Regions from separate parts of the Homo sapiens genome. Here region 2 is linked to region 1. Evidence: fine-mapped expression QTL. Tissue or cell type: whole blood. Region 1 holds a variant in brackets; the other region holds the start of a gene. All regions are shown on one strand. Distances are between the middles of the regions.

The links. PIP is the estimated chance that this variant, and not a neighbour inherited with it, causes the effect.
Region 2: it holds the start of TMEM144, and the variant in region 1 is fine-mapped to the expression of TMEM144 in whole blood (TOPMed, PIP 0.90).

What each region holds. Positions count from the first base shown.
Region 1 is chr4:158,013,861-158,022,052 of GRCh38, forward strand. The region is part of intron 1 of LOC105377509 (a long non-coding RNA gene); the gene reads right to left. Among named protein-coding and RNA genes, the nearest start is that of GASK1B-AS1, 150 kb to the right of the region's middle. RefSeq lists a silencer at 1,857-2,013. The variant T/C (reference allele first, on the strand shown) is at 3,450.
Region 2 is chr4:158,205,970-158,214,161 of GRCh38, forward strand. TMEM144 (transmembrane protein 144) reads left to right here and starts at 4,517. Exons shown (of 13, transcript NM_018342.5): 1 at 4,517-4,617; 2 at 5,484-5,605; 3 at 6,639-6,807. The coding sequence starts at 6,699. RefSeq lists enhancers at 3,905-4,459, 4,360-4,449.

The DNA of each region.
Region 1 (8,192 bases):
CTCTTGCCTATTCACAAGCTCAAACAGAAGTCTTCTCCTTTTGCTATGTGTTTTTTTCTCCTTTACAAATTGGACTTCTTTATTACCAGCACAAAGCTTTAAAAATCCACATAGACCAGAGTGACCACTTGACTCATTTTTCAGAGATAACAACACTAAGCTCTTTTTATTTTTCTTTAGTTGCACTGGTGATTATCATAGATCACATTGCTTGATAGATACATAAGGCATGAAAATTGTTGGCCACAATGTACTAGGGAATGGTAAGGAAGATACTCTGAGTCATAACTAAACCATGGGGTTTAATATTTTGTTTCATTAATTTAACAAATATATAGTGCATGCTATTCTACTAAGTATATACAGTTCCAGGAACTGAGAATACAGTAATAGTTATTGTTTATACAGTAATGAGGAAAAACTTAAAACATATAATTAATAAATGCTATATGGGACCAGGTGCAATGGCTCATGCCTGTAATCACAGCACTTTGGGAGGCCAAAGCAGGCACATCACTCGAGGTCAGGAGTTCGAGACGAGCCTGGCCAACACGGTGAAACTCCATCACTACTAAAAAAAAAACGAAAATTAGCCAGGTGTGGTGGCATATGCCTGTAATCCCAAGTTACTTGGGAGGCTGAGGCAGAAGAATTGCTTGAACCCAGGATGAGGAGGTTGCAGTGAGCCAAGATTATGCCACTGCACTCCAGCCTGGGTGACAGAGCAAGACTGTCTCAAAAATAAAAAAATAAAAAAATAAAACTCTGCATGGTCTGTCTCATAATACCACTAGAAATAGTCCTAAATTGTGAATTAACTATTTTAATAGATTTGCTTTTAAAGCTGAAACATATGAAACTTATAAAAGACAATAAAATCACATATGTACTGTTTTTATTTATTTACATATCTAGTTCTCCTATCACTAGACTAAGTTTTAATCCCCAGTAACTACCTTTGCAAAGCATAAAATAATCAAATACATATTCATTTAATCATTGGATTTAATTATAATCCCAAAATATTAACTTAGAAAACATAAAACTGTCAAACCTCAAGTATCCTCAATGTTAAAGCTTTTATTTTACTTTGAATTTCTTAAAACAGGTTCAACTTTCCCAATGCCACTTGGTTAGCAATTGGCAGAAATAAATAGAAATTTGGCTCTGCTCAGAACACATCCTTTTCATTGAAACTTTTTTTTCTATCAAGGCTTTTAGTTGAATTTTTTTCAAAGTGCCACAAATATAAAAGAGAATTAGCACTATATTTTAAATATAAAGCAATACAAATAAATAAAATTGGGTTGACTATTGATTAAACAACATTTCCAGTACCTTCTAAAACTTATTTTCTTGTGACATAACTTTTCTTCTGAAAGATTAATGCTAGCTAGAGATAGCTAGTTGTTTGCCAAACACTAGGTCGAGTTGGGTATTTCTGTGTACCGAAGGGTAGAGTTGCTCTGGAAACTGGCTTCTCTCACAGCCTTGCATGAAATTAGGGTCAGATGATTGGGTTCTGGCCAAGAGAATGTGAATGAAAGTGACATGAACTAGGACTTTTCAAACTTTCGTTTTCATAAAGACCACCTGAGAAACTAGTTAAACCATCTATTCCTGAACTCTACCAACAGTTTCTAATTCAGTAGGGCTGGAAAAAGGCTGGTTTGTGGGTAATGCTGATGCTATCTGCCCATGACTCACACACTGATATACATGACTACTACTTTGCCCATATCCAGTAAAAAAAAGAGATATTTTTAATAATATCATTATTTCTATGTTATGAACGAACAAAAAAGTAACCATCTATTTACAAGTAGATAACAACTGGTTATATTCTCTACCATCAATTTTTGTTGTGGACAATTACAAATTCCATTTATTTGTTTGTTTGTATGTTTTGGACAATTACAAATTCCATTTATTTGTTTGTCTGTTTGTTTGTGTTTGAGACAGAGTCTCACTCTTGTCACCCAGGCTGGAGTGTAGTGGCACCATCTCAGCTCACTGCAACCTCCACCTCCCAGTTACAAGTTATTCTCCTGCCTCAGCTTCCCAAGTAGTTGGGATTACAGGCACATGACACCATGCCCGGCCAATTTTTGTATTTTTATTACAGACGGGGTTTCACCATGTTGACCAGGCTGGTCTCGAATTCCTGACTTCAAGTGATCTGCCTGCCTCAGCCTCCCAAAGTGCTGGGATTACAGGCATGAGCCACTGCACCCGGCCACAAATTCGGTTTTTAATACACATATTGCAAAGGTAGAAAATCCTATTCCAACCAGGGGATAGTTATATGAAAAAAAAGTTGGCAGAAGAGTAAGAACTATGAATTTAAGACATCATTTGTTGTCTCTGTATTATTCCCAAGAAATCATAGCCAAAAGAAAGAAAAAATGATGCAAAGTGAAAAAAACACTAGCACATATTTTATCCTTAGAAGATCTCTACTGACCACCATGATGGTGGTAATTACTTTATGATGTAAACTACAACAATTAAGCTATTCCTAGCACACTTATTATGAGCTTCAGAAAATCACAAGGATGCAAACACAACTAAACTACATTAATGTGGACTCTCTTTTCAGCATAAAAACAAGATGTTCTACGGGTATGCCAGGAAAAGGTTTTTGGCTTAGGCAACTCCTTCCAGAAACAGTTACTCTATCCTTCAGTCCACTTTTTAGTTTACTTATAACCTTCTCACAGCTCAATAGCTTCCCTCTTCACCTTCATCTTTTCACCTCTGGCACAATGTGGAAACAGCTCATCCAATGCCTAACTCAGTCTCCATGGTTTCAACCCATTATTTCAACATCCTTATAAAAACATTCTTAGTACTCCTGGAGTAAAATTTTATTTCACAATATGTCTGCTATTTATGATCCCCCTATATCTGCTTAAGCCTGTAATCTTTCAAAGCAAGCACCTTCAGATAGCTTCCCGTTATTAACTTGAGATCAAGGATTAGTCTCCACTGTATAGTAATTATTCAAGGTGGACAATGAAGGTTTTTGTTTTTCTTGCCCTACCACAGAGCTGAGAACTCTACCCAAAAATTATGTCATCATTTTTTCCTGCATTTGTAGTAGGCATTAGCATCATTTGGTGAATGGGATGCTTGATGTAAAAAGTAGTTACAACTTGCCTAATAACACAGTCAACATTTTTAGGAAAGTTAACATTAGAATGGAAGACTCACAAACCCAATATATGTATATATTGTATATGTACATATATTGCGTATATGTATATATTGTATATGTACATATATTGTGTATATGTACTAACATATACACAATATATGTATATATTGTATATGTACATATATTGTGTATATGTACTAACATATACACAATATATGTATATATTGTATATGTACATATATTGTGTATATGTACTAACATATGTATATGTATACATATATATTCTAAGCTA[T/C]TTAACCTTTAGTAATAATTATATTGTAAAAATTAAAATGGCCCCAGAACACCCAGATCTGTGTTTGCAATAAATGAAAAATTGACAAATTATTTATATTTCATTATCTCTCTCGATTATATATTCCATGTGGCAGGCACCACACATATCATTCATCAATCACAATAATACAGTGCAGCATGGTACGACGAATCTAAAAGGTGCTTGGTAAATATTAGTTAAATCAATGTTGAAAATATTAAGTAAAAATCATAAAGTATGCCTGAAGAAACCTCATTTATTCCTGGCTTTTTTTTTCTTTCACTTTTATTTTACTTCGTGTCGTGGTTAAGAGCACAGCTTCCAGAATCAGACTGCCTGGGTTATAAGTCATGGCTCCTCTATTGAGCAAGTTACTTAACTGCTTCGTTACTCAGTTTCCCCAGCTGTAAAAAAAGTATAACAATGCCACATAACTCAAATAAATTTATGAGAATTATATGAGAAAGTTCACATTGACCTCTTGGGTTAGTATTGTAATCAGTTAGTAATTGTTCACTATTATGAGACTTTTCACTTGATATTGGTAAACAGCTCTGTTTTTTAAATTTATGATAAATATACCAATCATACAGAGATATAAAGGATGGAAATTAGATCAGAGAATATCACAAAAATATGTTCATCATAAAATAAATAAAAATAATGGGTCTTTATATTTGAAATCATGTCTAGAACATTATCTAATACCCATCATTTCATTCTAATTAGGGCCTTATAGGTAAATAGAGTTTCTTGATATTCTATTGTTTTATTTCAAGACAGGAAAATAAAGATATGCCGCATTTTAAAGGTGCACAGTTGCTAATGAAGATACCTGAAATTCAGCTGTCAGCCCTCTGAACCATATATTAGATCAATTCGACAGTTTATTCAGTTAGTACCACTGGCAGAATTTCTCCATAATTCTTACCATATGTACTTTTTTCTGCATTTCACTTCCCTTTTTGCTCTTTTGCTCTCTCTCTTCAACTTTATCTACTTTTTGTTGCAATTGTTTTGGTGATTTTATTGTTATCATTGGTGGTGGTGCTGGTGATAGTGGTGGTTTTTGGAACAATTGCTTTTCCTTCCCTAGCTATCTCTTTATTTTTCTCTTTCCATGACCTAAGAAGCAAAAGTGCCCAGTAATACACAGGAGCCTTGCTTTGTTAGCAGAATTTGTCATTTGAACTATGTGACCTCTATAATCATTTGTTCTACAGATGCCTTCTTTAAAGACTCATTTCGGAACAAGAAAAGGCTTTCAGACATTCTCCAATGACTAGCAGCATTTGCCATCCATCTTTAAATGGGTAATTCCCCTGTCAAAGACCTAGTCTCCTAGATAATTATATGCAGAGAACTATTATTTATTTTCCCTGCCAATGCACTGGAATCATACCAAATAAATCATGTGCTGTGGTATTAAATGTTGGTGAAATAAATGAACATGAGGTTTTAGAGTGACATGTCTTGGGAGTCAAAAGTACCTATGAGCTAAGGCATTTATCTCACTTGTTCAGGAGCTGACATTGGGTTCAGTAATTGGAAATTCGCATCATAATATTACAAAGGACAAATATTCACCCATTTCCATTGAGATGGCTTCCTCTTTAAAAGAATTATTTAGAGAGATTTGCACTGCTCTCTTGATATTGATAGTTTATTCAGCTGTTGAACAATAACTTAGGTTTTTCCAGACCATCATTCTGCACATGTTAAAGAACTCCCAAACCACCAGGCTGGCTTAGATAAATATCAGACTCTGGATAACTTTGGTATCAAGGAATAATGTGAAAGATAATCCTCTTTTCCTAAAAAGATGGGATGGGGAGCTACTTTTGAAAATAAGGTTTAGAAATAACTATTTTACTGTGAGATATGTTTATATTATACTAATGTATGCAATAAGTAGCATACAATTTTATTTTAATCACTATATTATAATTCTATGAATCTTACATATAGAAAAAGAATAGTAATAAAATATTCTCATCTTGAAAATGAGATAGTGTATGGTGGTTTTTCACTTTTCTATATTTCCTACTATGAGTGTTAATTATTTTTATATTTAAAAAATGAAATTAAGGTTACTAAAAATATTTTAAATGTTAGGGCATAATACATAAAGTAACACTTTCTCCCTTGTATCTCTTTATTATCATTCAAGTTTTCTTGCTATTCTGTCTTAACCTGTACTGTTCCTTCAAGTAATAAACATCAAAGGATTACTGTATTAAAATTACTCGAATTAATATGCTTTATTGTAAAGTATAATTAGTGTCAAGTAATTGTATCACTAGCTCATGATGTAGCTCAAAATGTAAAACAGACACCAGGCTACCTGGAAAGCAGGGAACTCCAGCTCTGACATTACTAGCAGGGTCATCCTAGGCAAGTTACTTAACCCCTCTTTGTTTCATTTTCCTTACACATTACAGTGGGATAGTAGTAGAAACCACTTCACAGATTGTTGCAAGATTAAATGAGTTATTATGTGTAAACATTTAGAACAGAATCTCACACATATTAAGTTCTATATGTGTCGTATTATTCTAGATTTTGGTGGACTTCATATGAGCATGATAACTATATAAATAATAATCTTATATAATCATTTCCTCTGGGTGCTTCTCCAGTGCTCCTAATAAGTTTGATGCTAATCTTGTTCACTAAGTCTCAACTCCTATCACAATACCTGACACACGGTAGACACTCTCTATATATACGTGGAATGAATAAATCTATAATAACTATTACAGTCAAGATGCTGTGTCTAAAAATGAAATCTGATACATGAATATAGTCAGTCATCTGAAAATATCAAGGATACTCTCTTTTTGCTAAAACCAACAAGGAAGTATTTCAGTTGAATTATTTTTATAGGCCCTTATACTATTGTTTATCTATTTCAGTGAGAGTCTGTTATTCTTTAACAACCTTGCATTCTTTCTTGATGCAGAGCTTATGTTGAATCTTAGGACTGTGTTTTCTGAATGGGGTCAACATGTGTTTACCATCTGGCTTTACTGTGTGTTACTTTCAAAGTCCATACATTGAAATACAGTAGAAGCCTCTTTATACCACATAAAGCACTTCATGCTAAGTTCCATTGGCCTGGTCCCCTGACTATGAGTCATAGTCAGCTGGAACATTGCTTGAGAATAACTTTACAAGGCATTAAGAGAACAAAAGATTTTAATGACTGGCTCAAAATGGTCTGGAATTGTGAATGCTTTCAAGAATCCATTTATATGTTGTTTCATTAGGAGCATCTGATGATTAGGAGTATGTGAGGGGCATGTAACATTTTTTTAACTTGTTCAGACAAATTATAACAGAATATGATAGTAAGTTTCAAGCTCAAATTTGCCTGTTAATCATATTTAATCTTTCTTTGTAAACTTTATTTTCATAGCATTACTGTATTATGGAAAAGAAATAGAGTATGATATTTTAACCCTTGGATCAATCTCAGACTGTTGAGATCCTTTCAGTTCTGATTTAGTACAATTTCAGGATGTAGGAGGACATCTCAAAATATTTAAGTGGTTCTATAAGCCTGAGGCTGGAAATGAATCACAGAACCATTTTTCATCTTGTCAGTCGCCGACATCATGCTTAAGGAATTCTTACAGCAAAACAAATGCCTATTCAGAGAACGTTAGCCATTCTATTCCTTGATATTAAGTCAAAGCAGTAGTCTCTACAAAGAAGCTTTGAAAATATGCCACTTTGTAAAATGTAATATTAATCAGTATGTTCATTCCTCACAAAGATAACACTAAAATGATAGGAACGAATTTAACAACTCACACACCCTGGGCCAAAGAGGCATTAATCCAGAACTAAAAATATGTTAACATTATAAAGATATAACCTATCTGGATTTCATCTAGCGTAAAAAGAGTTGTAAATCTAAGAGGAGTGATTTTGATATATTATTGCTGATTTCTAGATACTCTGAGGAAAAGCTATAAGATTTAGAGGTAGACAAGCCCTGTTGATCACATCCAGTCCAGTTTTTCTTCAGCTTTAGCTGCACTTTAGGATTACCTGCGGAGCCTTTATAAATCTCTATGCTCAGGTCAAACCCTAACCCAATTAAATCAAACTCACTAGGAGTGGGAACCTAGATGTCAGTATTTTTTGAAAGCCCCCTAAGTTTTCCTATACAAAGTCAATCAAGGTTAAGAAGGTCAATCACGGCTCTAGTTAGAGTCTGGTGGTGTGGCCAAGAGTGTAGGAGCTATCTTTGGACATGTTGGTGAGAGGTGGGTGACTAAAGGCAGGGCTTACTATTAACATGCATTGGCACCTTCTTAAGTGCTTTACCTGTATTATCATGTTTAATCCATTCTAATGGGTAGAAACTGTTACTATCAGCACCGTTTGTACAGATGAGGAAACGAAGAGAAACATCATACAACTAAGAATGGTAGAAAGAAGATTCAATCCCAGGCATTTATTTATTTAACAATTACTTATTGTTTATATATTATACCAAATGCTGCGACTTGTTGGAGTGCCCACATGCTTCATGTAATAAACAAGGAGATGTATTCTACCAATAAACACCTAATGATCAGTATGGTTGGGCGCATTGGCTCATGCCTGTAATCCCAGCACTGTGGGAGGCCAAGGCGGGCAGATCACCCAAGGTCAGGAGTTTGAGACCAGCCTGGCCAACATAGGGAAACCCCGTCTCTACTAAAAAATACA
Region 2 (8,192 bases), 190 kb after region 1:
CTTAGCATATCAATTATACTTAAAAATATGTTTTTAGAAATTGTCCTAGAGTTTGCAGTACACATTTACAACTAAGTCCACTTTTCAATAACACTATACCATTTCACAGGTAGTGCAGGTACTGTATAAAAGATTATTCCCAGTGCCTCTCTCCTGTTCCTTAAAGCATTGCTGTCATTTATTTCATTTATTCATAAACTAATATCACCCAATATATTACTGATATTATTATTTTGAAGTTATCTATGCGATCAATTAAGAATAAGAAACAAATTATAGGTTGGTGGATTTTTCTTTCAACACTCTAAATATTTCACTCTACTCTCTTTTTCCTTGCATGGTGTCTGAGAAGTCTGATTAATTCTCATCCTTGTTCCTTATAAGTAAGGTGATAGTTTTTCCTCTGACTCCTTTCAATATTTTCTCTTTATTTTCCACAATTTGTATACAATATGCCTACATGTAGTTTTTTTAAAATTTATCTTGCTTGGTGTTATCTGATCTTCCTGGATCTGTGGTTTGATGTCTGTTATTAATTTTAGAAAGTTGTCCACCATTATTAGATACCTAGATAACTATTATTTATGTATCTTCTGCTGCTTTCTTTCTTTTCCTTCTGGTATTGCTATTACCTGTATTTTATGCCTTTTGTAATTTTCATACAGTTCTTGGAAATTGTGTTTCTTTTTCCTATTCTGTTTTCTGTTTCCATTTAAGTTTGGGAAGTTTCAACTGACATACCTTCAAGCTCACTGATTCTTTTGCAGCTATCAAAAGTGATTCTCTTTTCTATTGTAGTATTTTTTGTTCTCTAACATTTCCTTTTGATTCTTTGAGTTTTCATCTTTCTGTTTATTCGTTCTTGCACTTTTCCCAGTTGATCTCTTAGCATATTAGTCATAGCATATTTTAAATTTCCAGTCTCATAATTCCCAAATCCCTGCCATATCTGAATCTGGTTCTGAGGCTTGCTTTGACATTTCAGAGCTGTGTTTTTTCTTGCCTTTTAGCATGCCTTATAATTGTTCATTGAAAGTGAGGCATGATGTATCAGATAATAGAAAACAAGATAAGTAGACCTTTAGTTTTTATGTGTATTGGGCCAGAAGTTAGACTGTGCTTAATGGTTGTTGTAGCTGTAAGTATCAGAGGCTTCTATTTTCTCTAATATCTTTCTTTTTGTCTCCCCTATTTGTTGTCTTTGGGTTTTCCTAGAGACTCATTTTTAAGCAGAGTCTGTGTCTTGCAACTCTCTCTAGTTGTGATCCACAGTTATTATACCAAAACACTATTTATGTGGTCGTAAGATATTGGAGAGTTGATACATTCTATAATGTTATGATAAAATCTCTATTTTTAAATTCTTATTTCTTTTTAAACAATTTTAGATTCAGGAGGCACATGTGCAGGTTTCCTACATGGATAGATTCTGTAATGGTGAGGTTTGGGCTTCTAGTAAACCCATCACCCAAATAGTAAACATTACAGCCAATAGATAATTTTCAATCTGCTCTCCTCTCCCACGTTTCCCTGTTTTGGAGTCCCTAGCATCTATTATTTTACCTTTATGTCCATGTGTACCCATTGTTTAGCTCCCACTTATAAGTGAGAACATGCAGTACTTGATTTTCTGTCTGAGTTATTTCACTTAGGATAATGGCCTCTAGCTCCATTCATGTTGCTGCAAAGGACATGATTTCACTCCTTTTTATGGCTGCGTAATATTCCATAGTTTATATATACCACATCTTCTTTATCCAATCAACTACTGATGGACACTTAGGATGATTCCTAATTGTGAATAGTACCCCAATAAATATATGAGTGCCAGTGTCATTGATTATAACAATTTCTTTTCCTTCAAGTAGATACCCAATAGTGGGATTGCTGGGCCAAATGGTACTTCTATTTTCAGTTATTTGAGAAATCCCCATACTGTTTTCCGTAGGGGTTTTACTAGTTTACATTGTCATTAACAGTATATACGCATTCCCTTTTCTCTGTATCTTTGCCAACATCTAAAACTCTGTTTTCTAGTTGTCCAGAATCCCTGAGCTGTGAACTTCATAAGGGTTTCTTCTTTTGTTTTTCTCCTTATGTGAGAAAGAAAGTGTAGAAGGTGTTCAAACTGTCTAGTTGCCTTTTCTCTAATTCAGATAAAGCTCTGGGGTAAAGTTTACCTTGAGGACAGGCTTTTGTTTCTGAGTATATTTCAAATAGTTATTGTTTTCCTCCCACATGCCAGAAAAAAGAGGAAACTTTTGTCCTGTCTTCTGAAAGTAAAACTCATTAATGTGTGGATGCTCCCATATGAATGACTCCCACTGTCTCTGAGTTTTCAACTCTCAAGTTAGTCCACACTCAGCCTTCAGCAATAGGCCAAATACTGTATAAATGCCCCCCTATCCTTTACTGGCTCCAGTGGCTTTTGCTGTCCTGATAAGCTGTAATTCTCCGTATTCACCTATTTCTTCAGTTTGCAAAGAGGTGGCATGTCCTATGACATCAATTCTCTGCAGATCTAAAAAGAGTAGTTGATTTTTGATTTGCTCATTTTTTTCTTGTTGTGATGATGGAAGTGGAGACTTTCACACCTTTCAAATGTCAGAGCAGAAACCAGAAGTCCTAGTAATAATGTTATATATATATATATATATATATATATATATATATATATATATATATATATATCTCTTTTGACCACATAAAAGGGGGAGGTGCACAGGTCTTATTATTATCATTTTACATATAAGAAAACTAAGGTTTAAAGAGATTAAATGAGTTTCCATGAGAAATATTGCTAACAGACGAAGCTAAAGTCAGAACCTGGATCTTCTAGTGTCTGCCAGGACTCTCCCAATACAGACCATTCTGTTTAGGCATTCATGTATACGAAACAATTTGAAAGAAAAATTTTAGTTTAAGAATAGAGTCATGCATGTTTGGATTTGCTCTGTGGCATAATGTAAAAGGCAATGGCCTAGCATATCCCTAATGAATCTTCTCAGGCCTAATTCAGCCCCCAACTCACTTTTAGACTTTAGAAATTCTCAGCAAATGCTGACACAAGCTTCAGTTTCTCCATGTGAGTGAAGCAAGAATAAACCACATGATCTTGTGACCATGAAGTGAAACAATTCTAGGTTGGATTTAGGCCCTATATTTTTGGAAGCAAGTTTGTGTATGTGTGTGTGTCTTAGGTGTGCATGTGTGGAAAGGGGAACTGATTTCTTCAAAATCTTTCTGAACTGCTAAATTAATCCTCTTCCTTAAGTGAAAAAGCTTTGCTGCTTTAATTCTTTAAATGAAATGTTATTTTGCCTTCCCATCTGCTCATCTGACATGATAGTCTATGGATGTGATTAATGTTTAAGGCAGAACTTCCTTCTAGGAAATGTCATATTTTAACAGTCCTTGTGTTTTCTCCTTCCTGTGAATGCTACACCCATTACCAACCACTGGATGGTCTCGGGTTAAATAGCACTTCCTCAGAGAAGGCTTCTTTGAACTCAGACTAGCACAGAACCTACACTTCCCCTTTCCAACTTAAAGTTTGCATCCTTTGGTGTATGCGAACCCACATGAAGAGATGTTTTTTTTGTTTTGTTTTTTTTTTGAGAGGACTCCCTCACTTTGGGAGGGCGAGGCGGGCGGATCACCTGAGGTCAGGAGATCGAGACCATCCTGGCTAACACGGTGAAACCCCGTCTCTACTAAAAATACAAAAAAATTAGCCAGGTGTGGTGGTGGGTGCCTGTAGTCCCAGCTACTCAGGAGGCTGAGGCAGGAGAATCGCTTGAACCCAGGAGGCGGAGGTTGCAGGGAGCCGAGATTGCACCACTGCACTCCAGCTTGGACGAGAGCGAGACTCCGTCTTAAAAAAAAAAAATACAGATAAATGGCCTGTACAGATAAATGGCTTAGGTGCATCTACAAAGAATTAGTGATTACAAGTGAAATCTTGTAATGTCACAAGAAATGTTAATGACGTCAGTGGTGCAGATGAATTTCTTAATACCAAGTGGAAAAATTCACTTGAGATAATCTTTTACAATGGTGTGAAATTCCTCAGACTTTTGTTTTATCCATAAACTGCACAAATAATACCTCCCTCTGTGACACTTAGAGAGGGTGACATGCTGAGAGTTTCCTGAATAATCACCTCTTGAAATACACAAAACTCTTCTAGTTTCCTGGTTGACCGACCCAGGGCTTGACGACTCCTTTTGAGCCACCTGACAATTCAGTCCAGCACAGCAACTGAAGGAAGGCGTTCCCCAACCTGCTGTCCTATGAAGGCCTCTAGGTCACCGGTGCTAAAGCCCTCCTTTCTCCACCCTCCTTAAGTGGAGGTAAACGTCCCAGCAGGAAGTCAAGGCTGGATTGGCGCTCTTCGCGAGCACCCTGGGAACGGGAGTCTGGGTCACGGGTGCTAGAGCCCTCCCCTCTCCTCCCGGCCGGTGTATGGGAAATTGTCCCCGCAGAAAGTAAAGGCTGGCCAGGCCGCCCCCAGCACGTAGAGGGAATGAGTCAGGCTCCGGCTCCACACTGGCACGTAGTGGGCGGATCGCGCCGGCGCTGAGTAGGAAGGAGCTTCAGCCGCCAGCCCGGAACGCAGTGAGTACAGCCACTCAAAGGAAAGCCAAGTCGCTTTGCAGGGGAGCGTCTCATGATTTTTCAGAAACGTGCTCATGGTTAAAAAGAAAAATCAAGGCTCGGAATAAATACATTCAAGCACTGTTAATTTTAGCCCAAAGACAGGCGGTACTTGCCTGGAGATTTGGGAAAATCAACATGAAACTAAAAATGAAATTTTAGTTGGAGTGGAGCAAGCAGTATTGATCAGAACATACCAAATACGAATTTTTTCAAAGTCTGCGTAGAAGTTTAAATTACTAGGAAAAATGTAAAGGAGAAGTATTTACTAATAAATGAAACAAAAGTAATAAAATAAAAATGAATTAATATAGTTTGACAAAATATCAGCGAACGCTGAAAAGAAAACATTAAAATAATGTTTGAGACTTTTTAGGTTTTGTGCAGGAAGAATTGGGAAAAATGTGCTGGATGGAGTGATACTGCTTTTCTTTTCCACAAAAATTTCATTATTTTAGAGAGCGGTAGAGCCTTTTTAAAGACAGTAAGTTATTGCCAATTCACAATGAAATAAGATCACATGCTCTGAAATGTACAAGAGCTGCATGCAATAAACTTCATTTATCTATAGGTAATAACTGATTGATGTTTATTCAGTAGTCGAAATGCACCTCATGCACTCTAATTAGCACGTCAAATTAGTCTCTCCGTTTCAGAGGTGTAGGGCCTTTGTGGAGCCTTCTCAATAAAATAATTTGCCACTCTTGAAGGTTAGACATTCTCTTCTATCAATGTACACATAAAGGTTTTGTTTTGCTTTGCTTGTTGTGAATTAAAATGGGGAGAAAATGATGTGTTAGCTATCACCCAGTCATGTGTCTTTTTAGTCATAGGTTAGCTTTTCAAGACACTTCCTGCATCTCTGACCTGTTGCACCTCTGTTATCTTGGCACCTCTGTTATCTTAGCAGCAAGCACCTGCCTCAGCTGACCCTTGAGCCATAACCCATGTAAGTCACTGCAGGGCTGAACCTCTCTTTGAGCCTAACAGTAGAATAATAATTATTTTTATTGAATAGTGTTAATGTGTCAATGTTGAAATGTGCCTCAGTGTGTCTTCCTCAACCACATCCCTATAGAGGATGTTTTCTTAATAGCAATGTGTTTTTGTTTTAAGAAAGTCCACACAATTTCAAATACACATTTTCTTTACTAAAGTTTATTGACCAGTTTTGAAGTGATCCTTGTTTTCAGTTAAACTATCTTTAATAATGGTAAATAACATATTTTGTAGGTTGTTGTATATTTAATATTCTCTGCAAGAACACATAAGGAACAATACATGGACCTTTAAATATTTGTCATTGTGAAATAAAATAACAAGGAAAGGTGATTTCAGGTGTACTTTATTCAATACATATATACAAGAAGTTATTACTATAACATTAAATTTGCAGGAAAAAAGAAACCACTGGATTATTCTGCTTCTATTCCAGAGGGCTTATTCCAAAGGGCCAGTGTGCAAAATATGAATCCAAGATGGCATTGTGGAAAGACGCTGTACCTCCTGTGATAAAATTACTTTGGTGGTGCTTTTTTCTCATGTATCTCGGGAAACTAAAAATCTGAATTGTATTCAGTGGCCTTTTCCAAATGGTAACTTTATGAAAAAATGTCTAATTCTTGGTTATTTGTGGTTTTAGTCCTTTCTTCATAGAGAAGCTAAAGCTGTTAAATAAGCTTAGCAGCGTTATCCGCTAAAACTTTCTGCAGTGATGGAACCTACACAGGAGAATTTTTTTTGTAATGTACTAAAAATTTGTCTTCAGGGCTTGTTCTTTTTAAATTGTAGGCTAGTGATCAAAAATATTTGGTGATAGAATAAATTAACATGAAGTACAAACATTATATATAGTTGTGTAATATCCTATCTGCAAAAAGGAGTCTTAGCGTGCTTTTGAAAAATTCAATAAATATAATATGTTAATCACAATTTGGTCACAGATTCACGTCTCAATTGTTTCATTTTTTCTTTTATTTCAGAAGCTCCTGAAAAGTACATCAAGTCTAAAGTGAACCAGCTAACTCATTAAGACTGGAATCATGAGCAACAATGGAGCAGACCTAACCTTTGGTTACATCTCCTGTTTTGTAGCTATCCTTTTGTTTGGCTCAAATTTTGTGCCACTTAAAAAATTTGATACTGGTGATGGTAATTATTTTTCCTTGATTGTTAACGTTATATTATTTTTAAAAATGAAGTTCCTTTTTTGGTCTTTTAAAAGTATAGCTACAAAAATAAATCATGTTGATCTTGATACCTAGTGAATAGAGCTTAAAATTAGTCATTTGACAGTGCTCATACCAGTTTGTCTGAAAGTCAGAATAGGAGAACCATTAAGGTTGTTTCATGGTAAAGTTAGGGAGGGTACAGTCAGGAAATCTCTTGGGCCATTATATGAATGGAAGAAATTTATAGTCAGTTCTACTATAACACCTGTTTTGAAAACATGAATCTTCAACATGATTGATATATTAGAGAACAATGTAAGCATAACAGATTTTTGGCTTGCTTATGTGCAATTTTGTCCCTGAGAAACCTCTAGATAGGCACAGAAGACTGCACCTAGATGAATAAAGATGTGTGATAATACACATAATGCACGCAGACACACGTACAATCTTCAAATATCGACCAGCTCCCTTAGTTCATCACATGTGGTTATGATGTATTCCACCCAACCACATCTCCTGTCCCAACTCCTCACCCAATACCTTCACAGTAACTCGTAAGCTGCAACCCTTTGGATGCTCACTTCCAGGAGCAAACTTCTGGTGTTTTTCAATTAAAATGCCCTATTTATTACAGCATCATGTAATTAACCAGTTAACCAGTTAAAACTGTACTACTATTTTAATTAGGTTGAGTGTTGTTCTCCTAGCCCCATTTTCCCATTATGCTCTGTAGTTTTTACTGCATGATTTTGCATAGTGCAGTGATTTCAAGGAATGCACATGTTACATTATAGCAGAACTGACTAATGTGAATTTTGGGGAAGGAGAAGCAAGAGTTATTTGTATTTGCCTGACTTCCATATTAAAGCCAGGAGAAGGAATTGAGATTTATGGTGAACACATGTTGGGAATTACTTCCTTGGTAGTATTTATCACCTGACAGCAGTTGTGTTATTTCCCCAATTCTTTGTCTTCGTGCACTTAGAAAATAGGATTACCTCCTATTTTCCTCCAGGGCCTTTCTTCTCTTTTCCTCTGGAGTTAGGACAAGAATGGGAACTACCCGAAGAACAAAAAAATGGGTAGAGGATCTAGCTTTTTTAGTCTTCCACAATTAGCTTTGTGATCCTGGGCAAATATTACCAGCTCTGCTGTTTTCAGTTTCTCATTTGTAAAGTGAACAACTTATAAAATGAAGTTTCTTTTCATCTCTGTGATTCTACTCTTTTTATTTTTTATTTTTCATTTTTTTGGGGAGATAGAGTCTCACTCTTTCACCGAGGATGGAGTGAAGTATCATAATCTTGGCTCACAGCAACCTCCACCTTTAGGGTTCAAGTGATTCTCATGTCTCAGCCTGCC